Linked DNA regions of Homo sapiens. The protein of the gene in region 1 interacts with the protein of each later gene in a biochemical or structural test. Each region holds a gene or a part of one and is shown in the gene's direction. Other genes may lie near its edges.

The links. Proteins that work in one complex are often made in the same cells at the same time.
Region 2: the proteins of RBSN (region 1) and RAB22A are reported together in a solved structure, tested with the Homo sapiens proteins (one study listed by BioGRID).

The regions. Positions count from the first base shown.
Region 1 is NC_000003.12:15,089,125-15,096,148, reverse strand, and holds part of RBSN (rabenosyn-5), read left to right. Parts: 5' UTR 1-28; coding exon 29-176; exon of another isoform or gene 177-478; intron 479-4,655; exon of another isoform or gene 4,656-4,810; intron 4,811-5,609; coding exon 5,610-5,750; exon of another isoform or gene 5,751-5,989; coding exon of another isoform or gene 5,990-6,014; intron 6,015-7,024. UniProt on the Homo sapiens protein: Rab4/Rab5 effector protein acting in early endocytic membrane fusion and membrane trafficking of recycling endosomes. Required for endosome fusion either homotypically or with clathrin coated vesicles.
Region 2 is NC_000020.11:58,354,704-58,361,727, forward strand, and holds part of RAB22A (ras-related protein Rab-22A), read left to right. Parts: intron 1-4,902; coding exon 4,903-5,000; 3' UTR 5,001-7,024. UniProt on the Homo sapiens protein: Plays a role in endocytosis and intracellular protein transport. Mediates trafficking of TF from early endosomes to recycling endosomes. Required for NGF-mediated endocytosis of NTRK1, and subsequent neurite outgrowth.

The DNA.
Region 1 (7,024 bases):
CCTTCCTAGGGTTGAGAGCGGCACTGCCATGGCTTCTCTGGACGACCCAGGGGAAGTGAGGGAGGGCTTCCTCTGCCCTCTGTGCCTGAAGGATCTGCAGTCTTTCTATCAGCTTCACTCACATTACGAGGAAGAACACTCAGGGGAAGACCGTGATGTCAAAGGGCAAATTAAAAGTAAGAGGCGAGGACCTTGCCTATCCCCTGCTGTCGTTGAGAGCTTTAACTCACGGGATAGTTCTCATCAGCTTTGGTGTTGCCACAGGAATATGATAATAGTAGTAGCAAACAGATGACTAGTGTTTGTCATGTGCCAGGCGTTTTCAGAGTTTCCCTGTTTATTAATTTCATTTAATCCTCACAATAACTGTGTGGCTGTAAGCCACATTTCGAACCAGACACAGAGAGATTAGATAACTTGTCTGAAGCCACTCAGAGAAACAATCTGACTTTGAGTCTAGTAAATGTAATTGCTGTGATCTGGCTTGACTGTTCTTTAACCACCAGCCTAACAGGGTTTGGAGAGGAATTTCTTTCCTTTGCTATGATGATGGAGGCACATTATGCACCCATTTTACCTGTCACAAATTTAAGACTTCCCACCATCCTTCCTTCCCCAATTGGTATCTTGCCCTCTATAGCCCAGAAAAAGGAAGGTCATAGTCGAAGAACAAAACAACCTAAAAACCTTGGTTTTTGAGCTTCCAAGAGCTCAGGTTTGAGAGAGTTGTGGAAAGAATTTTTCAAAGGTACTTTTCACTATACATATGTTTATTGTATTTCCTGGACATCAAATTCTAACCTCCAGATAAGATGCTGCTCCTCTGGGCGGGCACAGTGGCTCACGCCTCTATTCGCAGCACTTTGGGAGGCCAGAGTGGGCAGATCACTTGAGCTCAGGAGTTCAAGACCAGCCTGGGCAACATGGCGAAACCCCGTCTCACAAAAAAAATTAAAAAAAAAAACAACTAGCCGGGCGTGATGGTGCACGCCTGTAGTCCCAGCTACTCAGGAGACTGAGGTAGGAGGATCACTTGAGCCCAGGGAGGTCAAGGCTGTAGTGAGCGATGATCATGCCACTGCACTCGCACCTGGGCAACAGAGAGAGAGACACACACACACACAAACACACACACGCCAAAGATGCTGCTCCTCTGGAACTTATTTTGTAGTTATTCAGCTAACTTGCTTCTCACAGCTGGCAGCATTTCTGAAGGCCTTGAGATTAAAGAGTTCTGGATGTTGTATTCAAAGTCTTTATTGGGAGAGAAAGAAAGGAATGATCATGTATTTCTAAGTGGACTTCAGCTTTCAGACAGGTGAATCATATGCACTTTGTAATCAGATATTTGTCCCTAGAGTCTCACTCTATCTCACTTTTCTGTTCAGTAAAAAAGAGTTTCTAAAAGCATAAACAGTTATAACTTCTATCCAAAAACAACAAAGGCAAACATTTCTGAAATCCTGAGGGCTTTGGTGGATGAGGTGGCTTCTGGCTGTAGAGGCTATAGAACAGAGCCAAAACTATTAGGAGGGAAAAAAATGCTGTGCTTTATAGTTTTTAGAGTTTCTTTCACAGACATTATTGTTTCATCTGACTCTCCTAACAACTCTGCAAGAAGGTGATTGGTCTCATTTTACAGATAGTAAGTGAAGTGAGGCTCAAGAGATGTTGAGTTACTTATCCACGGTCACACAGGAATTGGCAGAGCTAGGCCTGGAACGTAGGTCTTCTGTCATCTGTAAATCCAGTGCTGCCCTTTGCACGTGACATCACTGAGGGTGAGAGGCCCCGTGTTCCAATCACAACATGCATTGCAGCTTCCTGGGGGAAATGAAGCAAAAACAAAACTAAAAAACCTGATTATGTAAGTTTCCTTTGGACAACCGAAGAGCTTCCATCATTTTCAACTAGCTTCCAGTCTTGGTGTCAGCTGAACTAAGTCCTATACAATGCCATTGCTCAACCTGGTGATACCAGTGGGTAGAGAGGTTAGAGAATGTTCCCGGATTCCTACAGTGACCCTTTTTTAAGAGGAAAAATGTTTAAGGTTATTTAGAGAATACAGATATGGGAATCTATTTAAGGAATACTAAATAGAATAGAAATTTTGTGCCTTGTGAAAGAAACTTGAAAGGATCCTTGGCTGGGCACAGTGGCTCACATCTGTAATCCCAGCACTTTGGGAGGCCATGGCGGGAGGATCGCTTCAGCTTAGGAGTTTGATACCAGCCTGGGCAACATAGATCCTGTCCAAAAATAAAAAAAAATTTTTTTTAATTAGCTGGGCATGATGACATGCATTTGTAGTCCTAGCCACTTGGAAGGCTGAGGCAGAAGGATCCCTTGAGCCCGGAAGGTTGAAGCTGCAGTGAGCCATGATTATGCCACTGCACTCCAGCCTGGGCAGCAGAGTGAAACTCTGACTCAAAAACAAAAAAACAAAATAAAGTTACTTCAGCCGGGTGCGGTGGCTCATGCCTGTAATTCTAGTACTTTGGGAGGCCAAGGCAGGAGGATTGCTTGAGCCCAGGAGACCAGACTGGGCAACATAGCGAGACCATTTCTACAAAAAAATCATTTAAAAAAATTAGCCAGTCATAGTGGCACGCACTCGTAGTCCCAATTACCCAGGAGGCTGAGGTGGGAGGATCGCTTCAGCTCAGGAGATCAAGGCTGTTACATTCTAGCCTGAGCAACAGAGTGAAACTGTCTCAAAAAAAAGAAAGAAAAGATCCTCTTGGTTTTTCCCTTTATTTCCCACCCTGCCTTACCCCCGACATCTCTACCTCTAGTACTATTAATGATCATGTCTTTAGTTAGAAAGGAATTCTTGATTATGTTGCAGTTTTCTGCATTTCAGAATCAGGAAAGTAAAGTTTTAAGGATTGACATGAAAGGTTTTTTGAAAAGCCCTTTAGAAAGCAGATTACGTCTCCATTTGGTCTTTTGATTCTTAGAAATGTTATGACATGGTTAGTTTTGGGCAAGTGAAAAGTTAAAGCCAAAAGAGTGAACCTTAGTATTAGGTTTTGGGGGCAGTTCAAAAAAGAAAAGATAGATTAGTCATTAGTAAAAAGTTAGTGGGTTCGGGGCCCAGTCCTGGTTCAGCTCCAGTCTAGCCCATTTTCAGTAAGTAGAAGAAAAGATAGCTGAAAATTGACTGTGGCTTCTTGCTTTGTTAGTGTTTTTTAAAATATATGGGATTATTTTTAATTGGCCTTCTCTGGAAGGGCTATGTCCTTTCTGGGAACATTGCCAGGCAGTTTTTCTATCTCCTAAAAGTGGTTAAATGGTATAGATTGCCTGTTTAACCTGATACTTTAGTCTTGTTTGCAAAAATGAATTGTTACTTGCTAACTCACATTCCTGTTTGCTAGACCCTTTGTTCACATCAGGCAGTTTTCTCTCCCCTGTTACTAGAAAAGACTGCTTTAGGCCAGGGACAGTGGCTCATGCCTGCAATCCCAGCACTTTGGGAGGCCGAGGTGGGCAGATCATCTGAGGCCAGGAGTTTAAGACCAGCCTGGCCAATGTGGTGAAACCCCATCTCTACTAAAAAAAATACAAAAATTAGCTGGGTGTGTTGGCACGTGCCTGTAATTTCAGCTACTCGGGAGGCTGAGGCAGGAGCATCCCTTGAACCCCTGGAAGGCAGAGGTTGCAGTGAGCTGAGATTGCTGCCATTGCATTCCAGCTTGGGCAACAAGAGTGAAACTCTGTCTCAAAAAAAAACAAACAAACAAACAAAAAAAACCCACTTTAGTGCATTTTAAAGGATGTCCTTTTGTTTTAGTATTTTTCCAGTTTGGACAAAGCTGTCCCACAGTGACCAATAATCAGGAAGTTTGCTTATTGGCTTGACCGTCTTAAAAAAAAAAAAAGACAAGTGTATTCTTATCAATCTCACCCTCAGCCTGCGAACCTGGGCAACATCTCTACAAAAAAATGTTTTATAAAATAATTTACCTAGTCATGGTGGCGCACACCTATAGTCCCAGCTACTTGAGAGACTGAGGCGAGAGGATCGCTTGAGCCCAAGAGATCAAGGCTGCAGTGAGCTATGATCAGCCACTGCACTCCAGCCTGGGTGACAGAGCAAGACCCTGTCTCTAAAAAATAAATAATTAAAAAGTAAAAGTAATGATACCATTTTATATTCAGTCTGATATTTTCTACTAGATTCTGGTGGAAGAAAGGGATAGCAGTCATCCAAGATTAAAGAACATTCATGAGAGAGCGTCTTAGAACTGAGAATTCTTCCCGCCCCACACCAGCTGATTGTTCAGTTTAACAGGTGGTTCTCTGCACCAGCACAGGTGGCAGAACCCATGTTCTGCAGAGGCATAGTTTGTGAATCAGGACTAGCGGGGGAGAGCTGGAGCTCTCATTTCAGGCACATGAGGTGTCTACTTCCAGCCCTGCTGTTACCTGTAAGCTCTGTGATCTTGGGTGAAGCAAGTTCTTCCCTGTCTTTGATGTCGTTTCCTCATTTGTAAGTAGGGCTATCACCTGCCTTATAACATTGTAAGCATGAACTGGCATAATGTATTTGCAAGCACTTTGCGTTGTACCTGGTACATACGATGGCTAAATACAGGAAATGTTCATTTTCTCTTCTTACCCAATCTGGTTCTGTTTGTGTTATGTTGTAGATGTTATATCTGTTTCTTGAAGCTTTTTGCAAGTATTCTCACATGCATTCAATAAGTGCGTGGGCAGTAGTGGGGAAGCAAGAACTCTGTGTCCAGTTAAGCCTATGGGGAACACCAGTCCACGGATGGAGGTTTAGCTGAATCCCATCCTGGAGGTAAATGAGAAGAATTTACTCATGAGTTTCTGGGGTAAATGAATTAGTACTATAGAACTTGTTTTTTAAAAAACATTATTTTAACTGAGGTATAGTTTTAATTTTTTTTTTTTTTTTTTTTTTTTTTTGAGACAGGGTCTCATTCTGGTTGTCCAGGCTGGAGTACAGTGGCACAATCTCAGCTCACTGCAGCCTCGACCTCCTGGGCTCAGGTGATTCTCCCACCTCAGCCTCCCAAGTAGCTGGGACTACAGGTGCATGCCACAACACCCAGCTAGTTTTTTGTATTTTTAGTAGAGATGGGGTTTTGTCATGTTGCCCAGGCTGGCTTGAATTCCTGGACTCAAGCAATTTGCCTCCCTTGTGGGATTACAGGTGTGAGCCACTGCGCCTGGCCCAATTCAAAAAGTTTTCAAAAATGTATATACCCACTTCACCACCACTCCAATTAAGATAAAGAAGAAAACACTTCCATCACCCTGTTTTCCTCATCAAATTTGATTTTAGCACTTTTATTTAATTGTGCTCTTAAATTTGGCAATGAGCAGTAATTTAGCCCATATGTTGGCCGCCTAAACCAATTTAATGCTAATATTGATTAACTAGTGTATTGCTCTGTGGTATTTGTAATATAGTGTTTGTGTGCTTGCTCCTGCATTTTACTTGAGATCTAAATATTTCTGGTGCATTTTTAAACAAACGATAATTATTTCGTCAACTCTTGTTTTTTGAGATTTCTTTTGACTGTTTACTGGGTGTTCTTCATGGCTCATTTGTATTATTTGTTCCATTTTTCAAGGTCTTGTCCAGAAGGCTAAAAAAGCAAAGGACAGGTTGTTGAAACGAGAAGGGGATGATCGAGCAGAGTCAGGGACCCAAGGATATGAGTCTTTCAGCTATGGAGGGGTTGATCCTTACATGTGGGAACCCCAGGAGCTTGGTAAGAAAATTCATTTATTCATTCAGCAAGTGGTTATTGAGCATCTGCTATGTTCTAGGTAAAGTTTTAAGAGTTGGCTGAGGAGGCATCAGTAAACCATAATGGTCTAAGCTTCTCATGGACCTTATGCCCTTGCTGGGGGAAGAAAATGGAAGAGAACCAGCTGAGCATCCACTTTGTGTTAGGCACTACATTAAGTGCCTTATACCCATGGTCTTGTTAGATCTTCACTGCACCTCATGAGAACCTGCCCAGGGACAAACAGTGAGTAAACTGCAGAAGTAGGGTATGAATCCATATCTCTCTGACGTCAGCCCAGGCATAGAGTCCATTAATGATTCTTTCCTCTCACATAGGACATTACCTGCCCAGTGACAGGCACTGGTTTATGCAGCTTACTTTTTTGAATAATTATAGTAACATCTACCTACTTTCATGTTTTTGGGATGATAAAAATTCTCTAACATTTATTATGATGATTGTACAACTCTGAAAATCCTAAGCTGGGCGCGGTGGCTCACACCTGTAATCCCAGCACTTTGGGAGGCCGAGGCGGGCAGATCACGAGGTCAGGAGATCCAGACCACGGTGAAACCCCGTCTCTACTAAAAATACAAAAAATTAGCCGGGCGTGGTGGCGGGCGCCTGTAGTCCCAGCTGCTCAGGAGGCTGAGGCAGGAGAATGGCGTGAACCCAGGAAGCAGAGCTTGCAGTGAGCTGAGATCGTGCCACTGCACTCCAGCCTGGGTGACAGAGTGAGACTCTGTCTCAAGAAAAAAAAAAAAGAAAAGAAAATCCTAAAAACCACTGAATTTGCTTTAAATGGTGTATGTATGTGAATTATATCTCAATAAAGCTATTTATCATGCCAGTCACACTTAGTTGAACTATCTAATCTTACATATCTGTTTTTTTTTTTTGTTTTTTTTTTTTTTTTTTTTTGGAGATGGAGTCTCACTGTGTCACCCAGGCTGGAGTCCAGGGCTCCGTCATGGCTCACTGCATTCCAGGCTCAAGTGATCTCTCACTTCAGCCTCCTCAGTAGCTAAGACTACTGGTGCACACCATCCATCACACCTGGCTAATTTTTGTATTTTTTGTAGAAACAGGGTCCTATGTTGGCCAGGCTGGTCTTGAACTCCTGGGCTCAAGTGATCCTCCCATCTCAGCCTCCCAGAGTGCCAGGATTACAGGTGTGAGCCACTACGCCTGCCTACATATCCTTTAACCGTCTAATGATAACAGTCATTAATATAATAAAATATTTTCTGTCC
Region 2 (7,024 bases), on another chromosome or scaffold:
TGTTAATATGATGATACTCGATGGGAGAGGGGCTGCTGCATGCCTTTGGGATCCTCTGCAGATCGTATCTATGTTTATTCATTTCATTCAAATTCATCAAAATATTTATTGGGAGCTGTTCCAGGCTCAGGGGAAATAGCCGTGAAGAAGATAGACGCAGCCCCTGCTCTCCTGGAGCGCACATTCTACAGAGGGAAACAGACAGTGAACACCAAATAAATAGGATCATTTCAGATCATAATAACTGATACAAAGAAAATAATTTAGGATGAAATGAAGGAATGTCTGCAAGCAATTGGGGAAGGTCTCCCTAAGGAGGTGCTATCAGAGCTGAGGTCCAAAGAAGCAGGCCCTGTAGAGGTGTGGGGAGTCACATAAACATGTCAGACTTCCAGGTGGAGAAAAGCAGAAAGCCGTCAGAGCAGGGTGGATGTAGCGTTAAGATCCACCATGTGGTTGAGAGCCAAGGGTACTGAAGCAGGGAGGGTCCTTTGCCATTGTGTCGAGGAGGGGCATGAACTCCAGAGCCCACCAAGGCCAGGCAAGGTTGACCCATGAGCAGAGCAGGCCCAGGTGAAGCCTTGGGAACCCCAGCTCAGGCCAGGCCCAGCTCCATCAGCTGGGGCCACACTGGAATGTGGGCCCCTGGTTGCTGAGGTTGTTTTCACATTTTTTTTTTACATGTCCCATTGTTTAGATTTGGCCAATCATTTAAGTATTTTCAGAGTACTTTGCAGGCCTAAGGAGCCCATCTGCTGCCAGATATGGCCAGTGAACTACTGATTGCACCCTCTAGGCCAGCCCGTTCATTTCAGTGTTAAAACGTCATGATGTGCCCGGGCATGGTGGTTGTCACCTATAATCCCAGCTACTCCAGAGGCTGAGGCAGGAGGATCACTTGAGGTCAGGAGTTTAAGACCACCTTAGGCAACATAGTATAACCCTATGTCTAAAAAAATATAAAAATCAAAATACTAGGGCATTGTGGCATGCACCTGTAGTCCCAGCCACTCGGGAAGCTGAGGTGGGAGGATGGCTTGAGCCCAGGAATTTGAGGCTGCAGTAAGCCATTGATTGCACCGCTACACTTCAGCTTAGGTGACAGAGCAAAACCCTGTCTCTTAAAAAAACAAAAATCATGTTTATTGTTGTCCTGGATGTAAATAGCAGGTACCCAGATGGATTTTTGAAAGGCAACATAAAGCCAGTTGGGAATTTTTCACAGCTCAAGCTAAAATGTCTAAGTGTGTGGTGTCATGAGTATGTTAAAATTACTGCTATCTTTTTGTGTTCTTCACTTTAGTGGTATTAAAAACAGGAAAGTAGGCCAGACATGGTGGCTCACACCTATAATCCCAGCACTTTGGGAAGCCAACATGGGTGGATCACCTGAGGTCAGGAGTTCGAGACCAGCCTGGCCAACATGGTGAAACCCCCATCTCTACTAAAAATACAAAATTAGCTGGGCGTGGTGGTGCATGCCTGTAATCCCAGCTACTTGTGAGGCTGCGGCAGGAGACTCGCTTGAACCCGGGAGGTGGAGATTGCAGTGAGCCGAGATCACGCCATTGCACTCCAGCCTGGGCAACAAGAGCAAGACTCCATCTCAAAAAAAAAAAAAAAGGAAGATAGTAAACTATACCAACAATGAAAAGTCTTATATAAAAACTAGTATGTACATATTCAATTTAACTGTGAAAAACAAAACCTATATGTTCACAAAGATTAGAAAAATTGGGAGAGATGTACATAGACTTTCTTGTTCACTGGCTTAGTAAAACTGCGTGAGCACAGTGCCTGGCACACTGACTTTGTATTGAAGTATAATAGACATACAGAAATGTGCACGTATCAGAAGTATAAGGCTCAGTGAATTTTCACAAACTGAATATACTCCGGTGCTTGGCACTCTGGTTGGGACATGGCCGTTCCTACACCCAACGGTAACCATCCTGATACTAATTCTTCAGATTGGTTTATCTGGTTTTGTTTTACATATATTTTGTACTTTATATTTTTAAAAACACTCTGTTTCCTCTTGTGTGTCTGGCTTCTTTCATTCTGCATTACATTTTTAGACCATCCATGTCATTGCATCTAGCTGTGAATGATCCACTCTCATGGCTGGTTTGTGCGTGTGAGTGTCAGAGTCCGAGTTGTGCGGGTAAGGGGGCAGTGAAGAATACCCACAATATAATTATCCATTCTGCTGTTGATAGACATTTGGGTAGCTGTTTCCAATTTAGAGTTATTACAAACAGTACTGCTCTAAACATTCTGATCGTATTCTTTGGTGAACATCTGTACACATTTTTGTTAGGTATATTTATACCCACAAGAAAAAATGCTTGTCATTGAGTATGCATGCATTCAGTACAGCTTTACCGCCAACCAGTTTTCAAAGTGGTAGTTGTACTAGTTGACAACCATACCGGTAGTGTATGAGAAGTCCGATCACCTTCTGTCTCTGGTGGGTAGTCAGTGATCTCCATTTTCATGACAGTTAATGAAGTCGAGCACATTTCCGAATATATGTTTACATTTGTCGTATCTACATATCCTCCTTTGTGAAGGGCCTGTTAAGTCTTTTGCCTGTTTTCCTGTTGGGTTACCTGCCTCCTTCTTAATGTTTTATAGTTCTTTATTTTGGAGATGAGTCACTTATTGACTATGTATATTGGAAGTATCTTCTACTGTATGGCTTGCCTTTGATTTTTTTAGTCAACTCCTTCGATGGATTGAAGTTTTTAATCTTCATATAATCTGACTGATCCTTGTTTTCCTTTATGTTTAGCTGCATTAGGTTTTTGGTTGCTGTTTTAGAAATCATTACCTGTTCCCAGCTCATGAAAATATTCTCCTCTTATTTCTTTTAAAAATATTATTTGTTCAACAATTTTTTGATGTCATATTTCACAGATGTCTCTTAGATACCAGCTATATTTCAATATCCATTTATTGAGAATAATGACAAGAAGCTTGGGTAAAGCTTTTAAACAGATTTGTAGTATATTCACAGCAGTGTCTAGTCATTTGAAAAGTAGTTAGAAGACATTGGGAGATACTTTCTCAATGTAGAAACCATGCTGTGTACTCCCCACACAGATCCGCAGACAACTCAAAGTGGTGGAGGCTCAAGGCTTGAGAGAACCTGAGTCAGCGGAGAGGCCATCTTAGCCTTGTTAATGTCAAAAGGTGTACATGTCCATTTATTCCATGTTTACAAAATACTTCTGTGTCAGGTATTGTGCTGATAAGATACTGGAAACATAAAGATGGACAAATAGGATCTCTTCCCTAGAAGAGCTTAGGGTCTAATGTGAGGGAGATAGTCATGTAAACAGATATGAGATATGTGTAGTAACCTGTTTCTGGTGTCCTGATTGATTGTAGTGTCTGGGATGTTACAGAGTAAGGAAGTGGGAGGGTGTCAGGAAAGCCTTTGTACAAGAAGCAACCCTTGAGTTATCAGCCAGGTAGGTAGATGGGTGATTTAAGGATTCTCTTGAAATTGTCATTATGCTTCACGGAGCAGTGAAGTGAAACCTGTTCATTCTCATGCATTGTTGGTAGGAGAATATAGTGGCACAGCCTCTTCAGAGAGTAATTTGGCAGCATCTGTCAAAATTTAAATTGCACATTCTTCCTGCATTTGTGCTAGATAGACACTGGAATACAATGTATGTGTCAGACAAATACCCAGGAGTAGAATACCGTGACCTAGCTCTTCCACTCCGGGCATTAATCCTACACACATACTCGTAAGTTCAGAAAGATGCTTCTTGCATCTTTGTTAATAACATCAAAATATTGGAAACAAACTAAATACCCATCAATAGAGAAATGGTTAAATGAATGGTGGTACATCTACAAATGCAGTATTTTAGAGCTGTTAAAAAGAAGGCAGCAGGCCAGGCACAGTGGCTCACATCAGTAATCCCAGCACTTTGGGAGGCTAAGGCAAGCAGATTGCTTGAGGTCAGGAGTTCAAGACCAGCCTGGCCAACATGGCGAAACCTGGTCTCTACTAAAAATATAAAAATTAGCCGGGCGTGGCGGTACACGCCTCTAATCCCAGCTACTCGGGAGGCTGAGGTGGGAGAATCGCTTGAACCTAGGAAGCTTAGGTTGCAGTGAGCCGAGATCATGCCACTATACTCCAGCCTAGGTGACAGAGCCGATAGCCTGTCTCAAAAAAAAAAAAAAAAAGGTGACGGCTCTTTCTCCATGTACTATGATGCCACAATCCCCAGGATGTGTTGAGTGAAAGTATCAAGGTGGAGAATGGTGCATATGGTTTGCTTTATTTCTTGCCCCATTTGGCCTTGGAAAGGGGAGATGGGTAGGGATATAGGTGTGCCTGAGTGTTTGTGCATATATGTCTCTGGAAGGCTACACGAGAAATGGGCCACAGTGGTGGCCTTGTCATGAGACAGAGGGACAACCATGTTCTGACTGAACTTTTTAAAAAACAAATCCTATGTATTACCTACTCAAAACAAAATGTTTTTGATGTGTGGCTTTTTTTAATTAAAAAACGTTTACTAAGTGCTGTGTGATATCCTTGTTTGGATCCTGGGGCAGAAGCAGGACATGTAGAAAAACTGATGCTATCTGAAAAAAGTCTGGAGTTAATAGTGATGTGGCAATGTTGAACTCTTCATTTTGACAAATGTCCCATGGTAATATGTCAGCACTGGGGGAAACTGGGTGGGAGGTACACAGGAGCTCTATCATCTTTGCAGCTTTTCTATAAATCTAAAATTATTCGAGTATAAAAAGTTTATTAAACTTTTTTTTTTTTTTTTTTACTTCAGTGAAACCTGTCAAATTGCATCTGCAAAATTGTTGTGTCTGAGAAAGTTAAAGCTCACTCCCTTCCCTTTTCTCATCTTGGTTTAGGTCGAAGAATTCCATCCACTGACGCCAACCTGCCATCTGGCGGTAAGGGCTTCAAACTCCGAAGACAGCCTTCAGAGCCAAAGCGGAGCTGCTGCTGACCGAACCTCAGCCTCTCAGACTTGATGATGAAGTAGGTGGTCCTGAAAGTTAACAGGAGGGCTGGGGTCCCTGCCACCAGTTTTCACCTAGCCAGTCTTGAGTCTTCTCCGTGCAAAAAGGATTCACAGAAATGGACCAGTTCTGTTCTCCAAAGACTGCAGCAATGATATTTCAGTCTGTGAACTTCTATTATGTAAAGAATCTCTAGTGTACAAAGGGACTACATCGTTGGCTTTTGACCTTGCTGAAAAGGAACATATAATTGTATGGATGGTAGGATTAAGTTGTTGAGTAGTTTTGTAATCAAGATTTTATGTAACATTTGTAAAGGGAAAATTAGCACTTTTGTGGTTCTTAAGGGAAAAGAAACAGACCTTGTGGAGATTATAATTTCCTTGGTTTCTGTTACCACTGTTAGAGGGAGTTGTATCATTTAACATATAGTAGGATAGTTTAAGTGTAGGGAGGACAATTATTGTCTGAAGCTAAAATGGGTTATTTATAGGACTGATGGAAATGATTTCATCTCTGCCATCTCTAAAGCACTTTTCATTGAACATGTTAGCCTAGGATACGTACAGTAAATTAACAATGATAGCAGCAGATGCCTAGCTCATCCTGGGTTTGCTTCTGACCTTGTCATGTGTGTGCCACCAAACACGTTATTGGCACCTTTTTAAATAAGCTCTCATGATCAAGATGGTGATGGTAGAGAAGCTGCCCGGAATAAACTGAATTTCATATGTTCTAAAATGACTAGCAATGGTTTAAAAAGGAAGAAGAGTGGAAGTGAAGAAGGTGGTATAAATGCTGTCAATTTTTTTTTAACCCAAGTATTTTGGTGGGGAAAAGCAAGTATCTATTGCTTAGCATATGTAAAGTTGTAGTCTATATTTATGGGGCCATTGCTTAAAGATTATAAATTATGTAAATACATTAATAAATTCTAAGTTTCATTTGACATTCCATTGAATCTCGCACCCAGTCTTGCGTATGCCTGCCCAGTTTTCAGCCTCTTAACGGGAGACTCAAGCACATTGGTATTGTATAAAGGTATAGAGCACTTAGCTTACAATCTTTAAAGGTTTCTCTGCCTTCCCTTCTACCCACCCGCCTCCCACCAGATCCCATCTGGAAATCATAATAAAGACATATGCCACTTTGACAAACCTGACTAGTCCTTACTAGCCTGAGGGTAAAAGATTAAGCTCCAACCTCAAGTCATTTACCTGGTCTTGGTAATAAGTTTCTTTTAGCTTGTACAGCATCCTCAGACCAACTGAGGAGCTTTCCTTGTTAACAATTTAGCTTATCTTTCTGTTTCCTTTATTTTTCCCCTGCCTCTGTTAGTGGTTAACACTCTTTTCCCTCAGGGAGCCTAATGAGGTTTTTAATATCATCTAAAAATAAAGCATTGAAGTGAAGTTGGTGAAAATTTGTTCCTGGTCTAATTTGGCACCCTTCCAACCTGAGTATTGTAGGGGAAGGAAATTTACAAGATTTAATAGGAAATGAAACAGCTTGAATTTCAAACTAAATTGTATTTTCAGAGCTATCCTGAAACTGAACAGCTGAAACTTTAAAAAATAATTGGTATTATTTTGTGCCCCCCACTTAATATGGATAGATTTTAATGGGAAAATTATAATTCAGATTAAATAAAAAACAATTCCCTTTTCCCTGTTGTATATCTTAAGCATTTGGAATTTTTTTTATCTTCTGAAATCATATAAAAAGAATGTCATTAGTAAAAATTCTAACTTCGTTTTGTTTAAAAGACATGTGGATGCTCCATGCCCCTAGGATTTTGCTTCCTCCCCGGTGCTAAATTAGCAAGCTCCTAGAGAAGCCATGTGATTCCCAGAGCCAGGCGCTTTACACCTAAAGTAGTTTGACTTTCTTCTGTATACATCCAGATGGATCCCAGGCATCCGGGCACCACCCTGGTGTGTCCCTAGAATTCCCACTGCTGGGCCTCTATCTCCATGACAACAAAATAAAAACAGAGGTTGCTTGACTCATT